3 linked regions of the Homo sapiens genome follow. The protein of the gene in region 1 purifies or fractionates together with the protein of each later gene. This does not show direct contact. Each region holds a gene or a part of one and is shown on either strand. Other genes may lie near its edges. The genes, in order: RNF125, DDX46 and PRKAR2A.

The links.
Region 2: the proteins of RNF125 (region 1) and DDX46 purify together in Homo sapiens (affinity purification with mass spectrometry, with the first as the bait; one large-scale study listed by BioGRID). This does not show direct contact.
Region 3: the proteins of RNF125 (region 1) and PRKAR2A purify together in Homo sapiens (affinity purification with mass spectrometry, with the first as the bait; one large-scale study listed by BioGRID). This does not show direct contact.

Annotation. Positions count from the first base shown.
Region 1 is NC_000018.10:32,035,742-32,039,394, forward strand, and holds part of RNF125 (E3 ubiquitin-protein ligase RNF125), read left to right. Parts: intron 1-1,374; coding exon 1,375-1,528; intron 1,529-3,653. UniProt on the Homo sapiens protein: E3 ubiquitin-protein ligase that mediates ubiquitination and subsequent proteasomal degradation of target proteins, such as RIGI, MAVS/IPS1, IFIH1/MDA5, JAK1 and p53/TP53.
Region 2 is NC_000005.10:134,824,663-134,828,236, reverse strand, and holds part of DDX46 (probable ATP-dependent RNA helicase DDX46), read right to left. Parts: intron 1,291-3,574; coding exon 1,217-1,290; intron 1-1,216. UniProt on the Homo sapiens protein: Component of the 17S U2 SnRNP complex of the spliceosome, a large ribonucleoprotein complex that removes introns from transcribed pre-mRNAs.
Region 3 is NC_000003.12:48,764,228-48,767,880, forward strand, and holds part of PRKAR2A (cAMP-dependent protein kinase type II-alpha regulatory subunit), read right to left. Parts: intron 1,123-3,653; coding exon 1,021-1,122; intron 852-1,020; coding exon 777-851; intron 1-776. UniProt on the Homo sapiens protein: Regulatory subunit of the cAMP-dependent protein kinases involved in cAMP signaling in cells. Type II regulatory chains mediate membrane association by binding to anchoring proteins, including the MAP2 kinase.

The sequences.
Region 1 (3,653 bases):
ATGGTAAGCAGGGATGAGAAAGCTGCAGTCTATAGGCTGGTACAATGTTTGAAAAGTATAATTTTCATATGTTAAAATACATTTTAAAAAGTCAGTGATTACTTTGGAGGGGATAGAATTGTGTCTGGAGGCCGGGCACAGTGGCTCACGCCTGTAATCCCAGCACTTTGGGAGGCTGAGGCAGGTGGATCACCTGAGGTCAGGAGTTCGAGACCAGCCTGACCAACATGGTGAAACCCTGTCTCTACTAAAAACACAAAAAATTGGCCAGGCGTGGTGGTGGGTGCCAGTAATCCCAGCTACTTGGGAGGCTGAGTCAGGAGAATTGCTTGAACCCAGGAGGTGGAGGCTGCAGTGAGCTGAGATCGTGTCATTGCACTCCAGCCTGGGTGACAAGAGCAAGACTCCATCTCAAAAAAAAAAAAAAAAGAGAAGGAAACAAGAGGGGAAATTTTAGGGGCTGGCCACGCTGTTTTTGTTATAGGTACTGGTTATATGGATGTGTTCAGTTTTGAAATTTCATTCAACTATATGCTTATAAGAACTTTCCAGTATGTACAGTATACTTAAAATTTAAAAAGCCTACCTTTGGACATGTATTAATACTCCCAAATAGATATTATGTGCTGAGTAGTTTAAGAGGCATCAGGTCATGCTCATGTGTATAAATTACCCAAATGCTCATTTTTATTTCTATGTTTATGGAGTCTTCAACAACTCCTATAAATAGGTCAGAATTTTCTGGAAATGTTGATTATGTTAAGATTTCATAATGAGCACCTTTAAATAAACCAGAGAACATATTTCTTGACCAGAAAGGAAGGAAGGAAGGAAGGAAGGAAAGGAAGGAAGGAAGAAGGGAGGGAGGGAAGGAGGGAGGGGAGAGGGGAGGGAGGGAGGGGAGAGGGGAGGGGAGGGAGGAAGGGAGGGAAGGAGAAAATGGTTTTATAGGGAATTATAATGTGTCTGGTATTTTTACTTCCTTGACTTCCTGCTATTTTCTTATGTGACACACAAAACCCCACAGAAGAAAGACATATTTTCTCAAGAAATTTGAGGTAAAATCCAATTTAGACATTCTTTAAAGTATCGTTTAAACTTAGCCTATAGGAAAGCTATTTCACCCACTTTGAATTCTTACTTTTCTTGAAATGTGTGAAAGTGCATGTGGTAAGAATGTGTGATTCTAAAGAAGTCTTGCTGGGAAGGTAAGCAATTCTCGGGAAGTGCAGGGTGCAAGTGGACCTGTAATTTGGTAGTATGGCTCATGGGGTACGAGGTGTCATTAAATTACAGTTTACACAAATGAATACATGGTGGTGGCTCCTTATAGCTTTCAAGGAAAGTGATGTATTTTTGGTCTGTTTGGGGTAGATTCTGCCGTTCCTGTATTGCTACCAGTCTAAAGAACAACAAGTGGACCTGTCCTTATTGCCGGGCATATCTTCCTTCAGAAGGAGTTCCAGCAACTGATGTAGCCAAAAGAATGAAATCAGAGTATAAGAACTGCGCTGAGTGTGACACCCTGGTATGTATGTGACCCCACCTATTTTCATGGTTACCAGCTTAAGTCCCTGCGAAAGTTATCATTTCACCTCTGCTTCTGACCCCATGGTACGCACCTTTTTTTTTTTTTTTTTTTTTTTTTGAGACAGGTTCTCGCTCTTTCACCCAGGTTGGAGTGCAGTGGTGCGATCTCGGCTTACTGCAACCTCCGCCTCCCAGGTTCAAGTGATTCTCCTGCCCGCAGCTTCTCGAGTAGCTGGGTCTACAGGCACCTGCCATCACGCCTGGCTAATTTTTTGTATTTTTAGTAGAGACACGGTTTCACTATGTTAGCCAGGATGGTCTCAATCTCCTGACCTCATTACCCGCCTGCCTCGGCCTCCCAAAGTGCTGGTGAGATGTGAGGCCAGCTGGACTTCCCGGGTAGAGTGGGGACTTGGGAAACCTTCCTGTCTTACAAGAGGATTGTAAAACACACCAATTAGCGCTCTGTAAAATGCACCAATCAGTGCTCTGTAAAACGCATCAATCAGTGCTCTGTAAAGTGCACCAATCAGCACTCTGTAAAACGCACCAATCAGCAGGATTCTGAAAGTAGCCAATCGCAGGGAGGATTGGAAAAACTGCACTCTGATAGGACAGAAACGGAACATGGGCGGGGACGATAAGGGAATAAAAGCTGGCCACCCCAGCTAGCAGTGACAACCGGCTTGGGTCCCCTTCCATGTTGTGGGAGCTTTGTCCTTTTGCTCTTCACAAGAAACCTTGCTACCACTCACTCTTTGGGTCCGTGCCATTTTTTTTTTTTTTTTTTTTTTTGAGACAGAGTCTTGCTCTGTCGCCCAGGCTGCAGTGTAGTGGCGCCATCTCGGCCCACTGCAAGCTCCGCCTCTCAGGTTCAAGTGATTCTAATGCCTCAGCTTCCCGAGTAGCTGGGACTACAGGCATGTGCCACAATGTCTGGCTAATTTTTTGTCTTTTTAGTAGAGAGAGGGTTTTGCTATGTTGGCCAGGCTGTTCTCAAACTCCTGGCTTCAAGTGATCTGCCCACCTTGGCCTCCAAAGTGCTGGGATTACAGGCGTGAGCCATCTCACCCAGCCTCCAATTTCATATATGTACATATATCATCTGCAGAAAACCCTGAACTTCTACCATCACCCGTAATTTGTCAAACAAATGCTTTCATTGACCACCTCCATTTTCCCTTCTTCCCATTACTCCAGTGATCCTCTATGATATGTCCTCCAGTTCTGCTACTCTGTTGCAGACCACTAATGAATAGCTTTATTATCAAACCCAGTGACATATTTCCACCTGTATTGATCTGGACTTTGCAGTATTTGTCTCTATCAAGCACACCTTGCCTGTTGCAGTTTTCAACTTGGGTACTATATCAGCTTCCCCAGATCATGTGAGGTCTTGAAGGTTATGTAGAAGATTCTAGATTTTATCTTAAATGCAATAGTAAGCCAGAGAAAGAGAGTAAGTTTTGGAGTGCCAAGATCGGGCTTATATCTTTATTTTTATTTTTATTTGAGACAGAGTCGCACTCTGTTGCCCAGGCTGGTGTGCAGTGGTGCGATCTCAGCTCACTGCAGCCTCCACCTTCTGGGTTTAAGCGATTTTCATGCCTCAGCCTCCCGAGTAGCTGGGATTACAGGGGCCCAACACCACGCCTGTCTAACTTTTGTATTTTCAGTAGAGACACAGTTTCACCATGTTGGCCAGTCTGGTCTTGAACTCCTGACCTCAGGCGATCTGCCCGCCTCGGACTCCCAAAGTGCTGGGATTACAGGCATGAGCCACCATGCCCAGCCCAGGATTGTATCTTTAAGATATCACTCTAACATACACATAGAAAATGGTTTGGAGGCCAGGCGCAGTGGCTCATGCCTGTAATCCCAGCACTTTGGGAGCCCGAGGCGGGAGGATTGCTTGAGCTCAGGAGTTCAAGACCAACCTGGGAAGAGACCTTGTCTCTACTAAAAATCAAAAAAATTAGCTGGGGCATAGTGGTATACGCCTGTAGTCCTAGATACTCCAGAGGCTGAGTAGGAAGAGCGCTTGAGCCCAGGAGATCAAGGCTGCAGTAAACTATGATCGTGCCACTGCACTCCAGCTTGGGCAACATAGCAAGACTCTCTCA
Region 2 (3,574 bases), on another chromosome or scaffold:
CTCTGTGAGGGGAATTTTAGAAAAGCTCTCAGAATTACACTTAGATAAAAGACAACGTTTCCTTTCAAAGGAAATGTACACACTGTAGGGAGTGTTTATAAGCTGCAACTGGCACTAAAGACACAAGGACATGTCTACCTCCTCGGGAAAGGCAGTCTGTAAAGGGCTTTTTCCAAAATCAAATTAAGTCATTGTTTAAGTTTAAAGACACTGACAACACCATGTGTTGGCAAATATGTAGAACAACTGGAATTTTCTACACTTCTGGATTGAGTGTGAATTGATGTAACCTCTTTGGAAAACTATTTAGCAATACCTAGCCTATAATTAACAATTCTACTCCGAGGTATATACCCAAGGAAAAAATCATGCTAATATATACCAAACGCACATGGAATAATGTTCACAGAAGTGTTGTTCATAAAAACCAAAAATAAGAATAGCCCCCAAATCCAATATATAAATATAAATTAATTGTTGTATAATCATATAAATATTATATGGCCATGAAAATGAATTATTGCTACATGCAATAACATGGACCGATCTCCTCAAAATGTTGAGTGAAGGAAACTAGATGCAAAAGGTGCAAACGCATGATTACACTTATGTGGAGTTCAAAAACAGGAAAAACTAATCTATGATTTTAAAATTCACAATATAGGGCCGGGCGCCACGGCTCACGCCTGTAATCCCAGCACTTTGGGAGGCCAAGGCAGGTGAATCATGAGGTCAGGAGTTCGAGACCAGCCTTGCCAACACAGTGAAACACCATCTCTACTAAAAATACAAAAATTAGCCAGATGCGGTGGTGTGCGCCTGTAATCCCAGCTACTCAGGAGGCTGAGGCAGGAGAATCACTTGAACGCAGGAGGCGGAGGTTGCAGTGAGCCGAGATCGTGCCACTGCACTCCAGCCTGGGTGACAATGCAAGACTCAGTCTCCAAAAAAAAAAAAGAAAAGAAAAGAAAAAAAATTCAAGGTATGGTTTTGTTGGGGGGAGATGAATAGTGACAAGAATAGACACAGAGAAGACTTCTGGGATATTAGTAATGTTTTTTATTTCTTGATCTGGGTAGTGACTACACTGGTATGCTTATTACTTTGTGAAAATTCATCAAACTATATGTTTATGATTTGAGTACTTCTCTGTATTTATATTTCAATAAAACACTTATTAAAACAAAACAAACGAAACTTTAAGGTTTTCACTCACCAGCCGGATCAGCTCTTCTTTTATGAGCCTGGTGATTTCTGCCTTTGCTTTCTGCACAGCCAGTTCATTGGCACCTAGTGATTGAGTGGAAAGCATATTATTCAAATTACTAAACTTACACTGTGTTTACCCATATCACGGAGGTCCAGGAAGAAACACTGTAGGTGACTTTCAGAAACACTGTACTGCCTGCCAAGATAGCCATTTAATGCCTGGTGGAACATTACCCACATTATATAATGGCTGCTTATTATTTTGATTACTTTCAGAGTTTCAAATGTAACCACTGAGGTCATATTATGTGTTAAGAGTTCCTAGTATGGTGATTAAAAAGAGTGGAATAAAAAGACTATTAGTGATTTGTCCAGGAGATAGTAAGAGAAGGCTAAAGGGAAATATAACTTCCTTGGTTTATTCATTTAGTAAGTATTTATTAGACATTTATGATGTTCACTGAAGTCTACAAATGTTTCAGAAGGGTCTCGTCTGAACAAAATCTTTAAAATGAAAGGAGGACTAGCCAATTGGAGGGAGGAAAGATACCATAAGAGTATTTTGCAAAGGAAATTAATTACATGCGTAATGGTACAGAGTTAAGACAAGCATGCTTAATTATTGAAGAATAAGAGAAGCGTAGCGTGGTTGGAAAAGGAGTATGAAAGAACACCGCAAGATAGCTGACTAGATGAGGTAGGCTGCAGACATTCATTCACAGTTATCAATTTCATAAACATTAAGCACTCACCTCTCACATACTGTGAGACATTTAACATATAAATAACAAATTCATGCTCTTTAAAAGCTTACAGACTAGAAAAACAAACTTGTAAAGATATCAAAACAGGATGAAAAGGAAGTAGTTCACAAACTTCACTTTTAAATACCACTTTTAGGAAGTTTTCCTGACTCTGAAAGGCACAGTTAAGTGTTTTTTTCCTTAGTGCTCTCACAATATTGTATTTATACCATCACAAGAGCACACTTTTGAGGTAGAATGGACAAGATATTTTTTCTGATGGGATATGAACAGTGAAAAAGAGAAACAAATTAAGATATTAAGAGCTGGCTGGCAAGTGAAAAAAGGCAGAAGTAAAAGAATATACTGATTCCAGGAGGTAAACAGGTGTTTTCTGGACAGTGATAATGGGTGAAATTTAATTCTAAAATTGCTGTAGTTGAGGTGCTCATCAGACATCCAATTGGAAATACAGATGAGGCCAATGGAAATATGAACCAGAAGTTTAGAAGTGGCAGAGATTAGAGAGCCATCAAGGGTAGGCTGGGTAGAATCTGGAGCCAATGGACAATGCCAGTGAGTAGGTAAGTACAGATAGACACCATATTGCACACTGAGAAGAGAAAAAGAGCTGAATCAAAGAAGACTAAAGATTGAAATGTCTAAGAATAAAAGGAGGACTGGGTTTGCAACGTAGAGAGCTATATTTTTATCATTCCGTGTATTTTTAAAAAACACAAATGAGGGAAAGATTTATAATAAACGAGAAAATTTCCCCCCATATTAGAAATGAGTAACTTTTCTGTCCCCAGAGAGAGACAGAGACGGAGCTAGAAAGAGAGACAGAAACAGTTGCACAACAGGAAGGAAAAGGCCAAGGGTATGGCTATGAAGTCATAGCAACATATCTAATTTAAATCCTATACCTCCACTAGCCACCAATCACAACACTATAAAACTACGTGGGGAAGGTGAGTGCTGGAAGGGAAGAGAAAAAGAAGAATCAAGACCGAAGTCAAACTGAAAATTACAACAAAAATGAAATTTAGGAGGAAAACACGTTGCTTGGTATGAGTTGGTGTGAAGCTTGTTGATATTTTTGTGCAACTTTAAAAAGAAGGAAAATGACACTCTCACCTAGATTTAACTGGAAAATCAATTTTCCTACTTTTATCAGAGCCCGACAATTTGGACCAGTTTAAATTCTGACTTATGTAACTTCTTGTAATAGGTTACATATGTTTATAAGCAGCTATGAAAAAAAGGGCATTTCCTTTCATTGGTCCTAAAACAACTGTGGCTGCTTTTAAGGGATTCTCCACTAGTAAAAAGAGAGGGTCACAGAACAGGCTATATAAATTATACAGGCTGACTAGGCATGTAAGTCCTTCCTGTTCTCCTTCCCTTTGCCTGGTGGGAGGCCTGGAGCTGCTGAGCCAAACAGAGCCTCCAAGGAGCCAGCCAGGCAGTGGGGTCCCTCCAATTACAGAACTAGAAACAGATGACACTAGGCTCATTCCACAGTAGCAACACCTGTTTTCATCCTGTTAGTGTTTAGTTGAGTTCGGAGTTTCAAAAACTAAATGATCCTTTAAAAAATCTAATTACCTCTGAAAATTCTA
Region 3 (3,653 bases), on another chromosome or scaffold:
CAAAGAAAATTATCAGACAGTACTCATTACAATGATCTAGCCCACTGTTTAGTAATCTTTACATCTTACAAATTTGGTTAATCACTGAAGACTGTGAACTCTGATTTGTGTTAGATTAGCCAAAAGGATGCCTTTGTGTCAAATATAGAAAGTTAGAGGACAGAACTCTTTAACCTTCCCCAGGTTCTAATAGCAATGGATGAAACTTACTTAAGGTCAAAAGAAAATGACATCAAAAGAACAAACACTAGAAGCCAAGGAAAGGTGAGAGGAAGCAAGAGATCTGCACGTGTCAGTAAGACGGACGTCAATAAGCTTCAGAGGACTACATAATAGTCCTCTGAAGTATGATCTATTACCTGGTAATAAGAGCTCCCAACAGTGGGAGAACATAGAAGGTTTTTTGGTTTTTTTTTGAAATGGAGTCTTGCTCTGTTGCCCAGGCTGGAGGCAGTGGCGCAATCTCGACTCACTGAAACCTTTGCCTCCTGGGTTCCAGCAATTCTCCCGCCTCAGCCTCCCAAGTAGCTGGGATTACAGGCATGGGCCACCACACCCAGCTAATTTTTGTATTTTTAGTAGAGATGGAGTTTTACCATGTTGGCCAGGCTGGTCTTGAACTCCTGGCCTCAAGTGATCCACCTGCCTCAGCCTCCCGAAGTGTTGGGATTACAGGCGTGAGCCACTGCGTCCGGCAAGAAGTTTTTGAGATAAATGATGTACTAGTTCTTCAGGGGTGACTTCCAGGAAAGGAGCTGCGTAAAGCCCTCACTCACCTGAGTGATTATGCGTTCTCCATCCTTATAGATCTTCTCTCCTATTACATCCACAATCTTCATTCGTTCTGACACCTGAAACAACAAATTCACAAATAAAAGGAAAAGACCTTAATTGAAAGTCACAATAGCTATGCAGCACAGAAATAGGATTAGAATAGTATGATTTGAAAACCTAACAACAGAATAGTTTTAAAAGCTTTTCCTGATCCCCATGAACAGATTCTTATTCAAGCCACTTTACCTCTAGTGATTTAAGGAGGGGCACAGACTCAATAAATGATTCAAACATCTTCCTCTTCTTTGCATTATTTTTCACTATGATTCTTCTAAAAGTCACCCGGTCCTACAAGAAAGAATATGAAAATTCTAGTAAATGCCTATATACAGGAACATCTATGGTTTAATTAACTGGCCAAAGCAAATATTAGAGGAATATGTAAGTTACTGTGTTAATTAAGTGTTTAATGATACTTCAATCTTGAGTCATCACTGGAAGTAAAGGACCTATAGCCTGAGCCAGCCAGATGCCCACATGCTGTTGCTTGCTATCTAGCACTCAATAGGTGCCACCTATGGGTCATAAATAGAACCCAAAACAGAAAACACCTAAACATTTATGAGCTCACTGTCACTGTTCAATATCAAAAAAGACACCTCTAGTGAGCCGAGATCATGTCACTGCACTCCAGCCTGGGTGACAGAGTGAGACCCTCATTTCAAAAAAAAAAAAAAAAAAAAAAAAGAGACACCTCACCAAAAGAGAGAATAAAACAATCATTTAATCCTTAGAATCCAGGATTTAAAAAAACTTAAAAAATCCAAAACAATTAGATTGTTCTTGCCTAAAAAAAGAACAATTAGATTGTTCTTACCCTAAAAAAGTTTACAATCTTAATGGGGAGATAATATAAAATATCAAAATATGAAGGTTGGCTGAATGCAGTGGCTCACTGCCTGTACTCCTAGCATTTTGGGAGGCTAAGGTGGGCAAATTGCTTGAGCCCAGGAGTATGAGACCAGCCTAGGCAACATGGTGAAACACGCTCTCTACGAAAAAATACACAAAAAAAGTTAGCTGGGCATGGTGGCACTTGTCTGTACTTGGGTGGCTGAGGTGAAAGGCTCACCAGAGCCTGAGAGGTCAAAGCTGCAGTGAGTTGTGATTGTACCACTGCATTCCAGCCTGGGCAGCAGAGTGACACTATGTCCCAAAAACAACAATATCAACAACAACAACAACAACAACAAAATACATAGGAATAAAAAGTCTACATTTCAAGGACAGGTGCAGTGGCTCACACCTGTAATCCCAGCATTCTGGGAGGCTGAGTCAGACAGATCACTTGAGCTCAGGAGTTCAAGACCAGGCTGTGCAACATGGTGAAACCCCATCTCTACAGAAAATACAAAAATTAGCTGGGCATGGTGGCGTTTGTCTAGTCCCAGCTAGTTGGGAGGCTGAGGCTGGAGAATCACTTGAGCTCAGGAGGCTAAGGTTGCAGTGAGCTGAGATTGCGCCACTGCACTCCAGCCTGGGTGACATAAGTTGAAACTGTGTCTCAAAAAAAAATAAAATAAAAATAAAAAGTCTACAGTTCAAGACAGCATATGAGCATATGAAATGTGCTTGATGAAACTACAGAAGACAAGTGCCACATAAATTTCAAGGTAAGAAGGGGAGATCACAGTAGGCAGGAGTGATCAAAGATTATTTTGCAGCAAAAATGTCTAGGACCTGAAAGAGAGGTAGGATTTAAGTTAATGGAGAGACACGGGAGGAATACGCAAGATGGAAGGCAGGCATATGAAAGATACCTTGACTCTAGCAAGTCATGGATTCCTTCTGTTTTATTTTGAGATAGGGTCCCCCAATGTTGTCCAGGCTGGCTTTGAACTCCTGGGGTCAAGTGATCTCCCCACCTCAGCCTCCCAAGTAGCTGGGACTACAGGTACACAACACTGTGCCTGGCTTAGTAAGTAATGGATTCTGATCAGAAGACAGTTAACCAAACCAGGCACTTCTCAGATATGTGTACACATGTGCAGGGAGATACATGTGAGAATGTTAATTGCTTAGTCTTAGATTCCTAAATGGGCAAGCAGTTATTTGTATCTAAGTTAACTACCTTTCTTCCACCTCAGGCTGTCAGGACTATACATATATACATTTTGTCAGAAAGTATAATAATGGGCTGGGCGCAGTGGCTCACGCCTGTAATCCCAGAACTTTGGGAGGCCGAGGCAGACGGATCGCTTGAGGTCAGGAGTTCAAGACCAGCCTGGCCAATATGGTGAAACCACATCTCTACTAAAAATACAAAAATTAGCCAGGCATGGTGGTGGGCGCCTGTAATCCCAGCTTCTTGGGACGCTGAGACAGGAGAATCACTTGAACCTGGGAGGCAGAGGTTGCAGTGAGCCGAGATCATGCCACTGCACTCCAGCCTGGGTAACAGAGCGAGACCCTGCCTCGAAAAAAACAAAAACAAAACAATATTTTAGGCTGTGTGTGGTGGTTCATGCCTGTAATCCCTGCACTTTGGGAGGCCAAGGCAGGAGGATCGCTTGAGGCTAGGAATTCAAGACCAGCCTGGGCAACACAATGAGACCTCAACTCTATTTAAAACACAAAAACAGGCTGGACGCAGTGGCTCACACCTATAATCCCAGCACTTTGGGAGGCTGAGGCGGGTGGATCACAAGGTCAGGAGATCGAGACCATCCTGGCTAACACAATGAAACCCCGTCTCTACTAAAAATACAAAAAATTAGCTGGGCATGGCGGCACGCGCCTGCAGTCCCAGCTACTAGGGAGGCTGAGACAGGAGAATCGCTTGAACCTGGGAGGTGGAGGTTGCAGTGAGCCAAGATCAC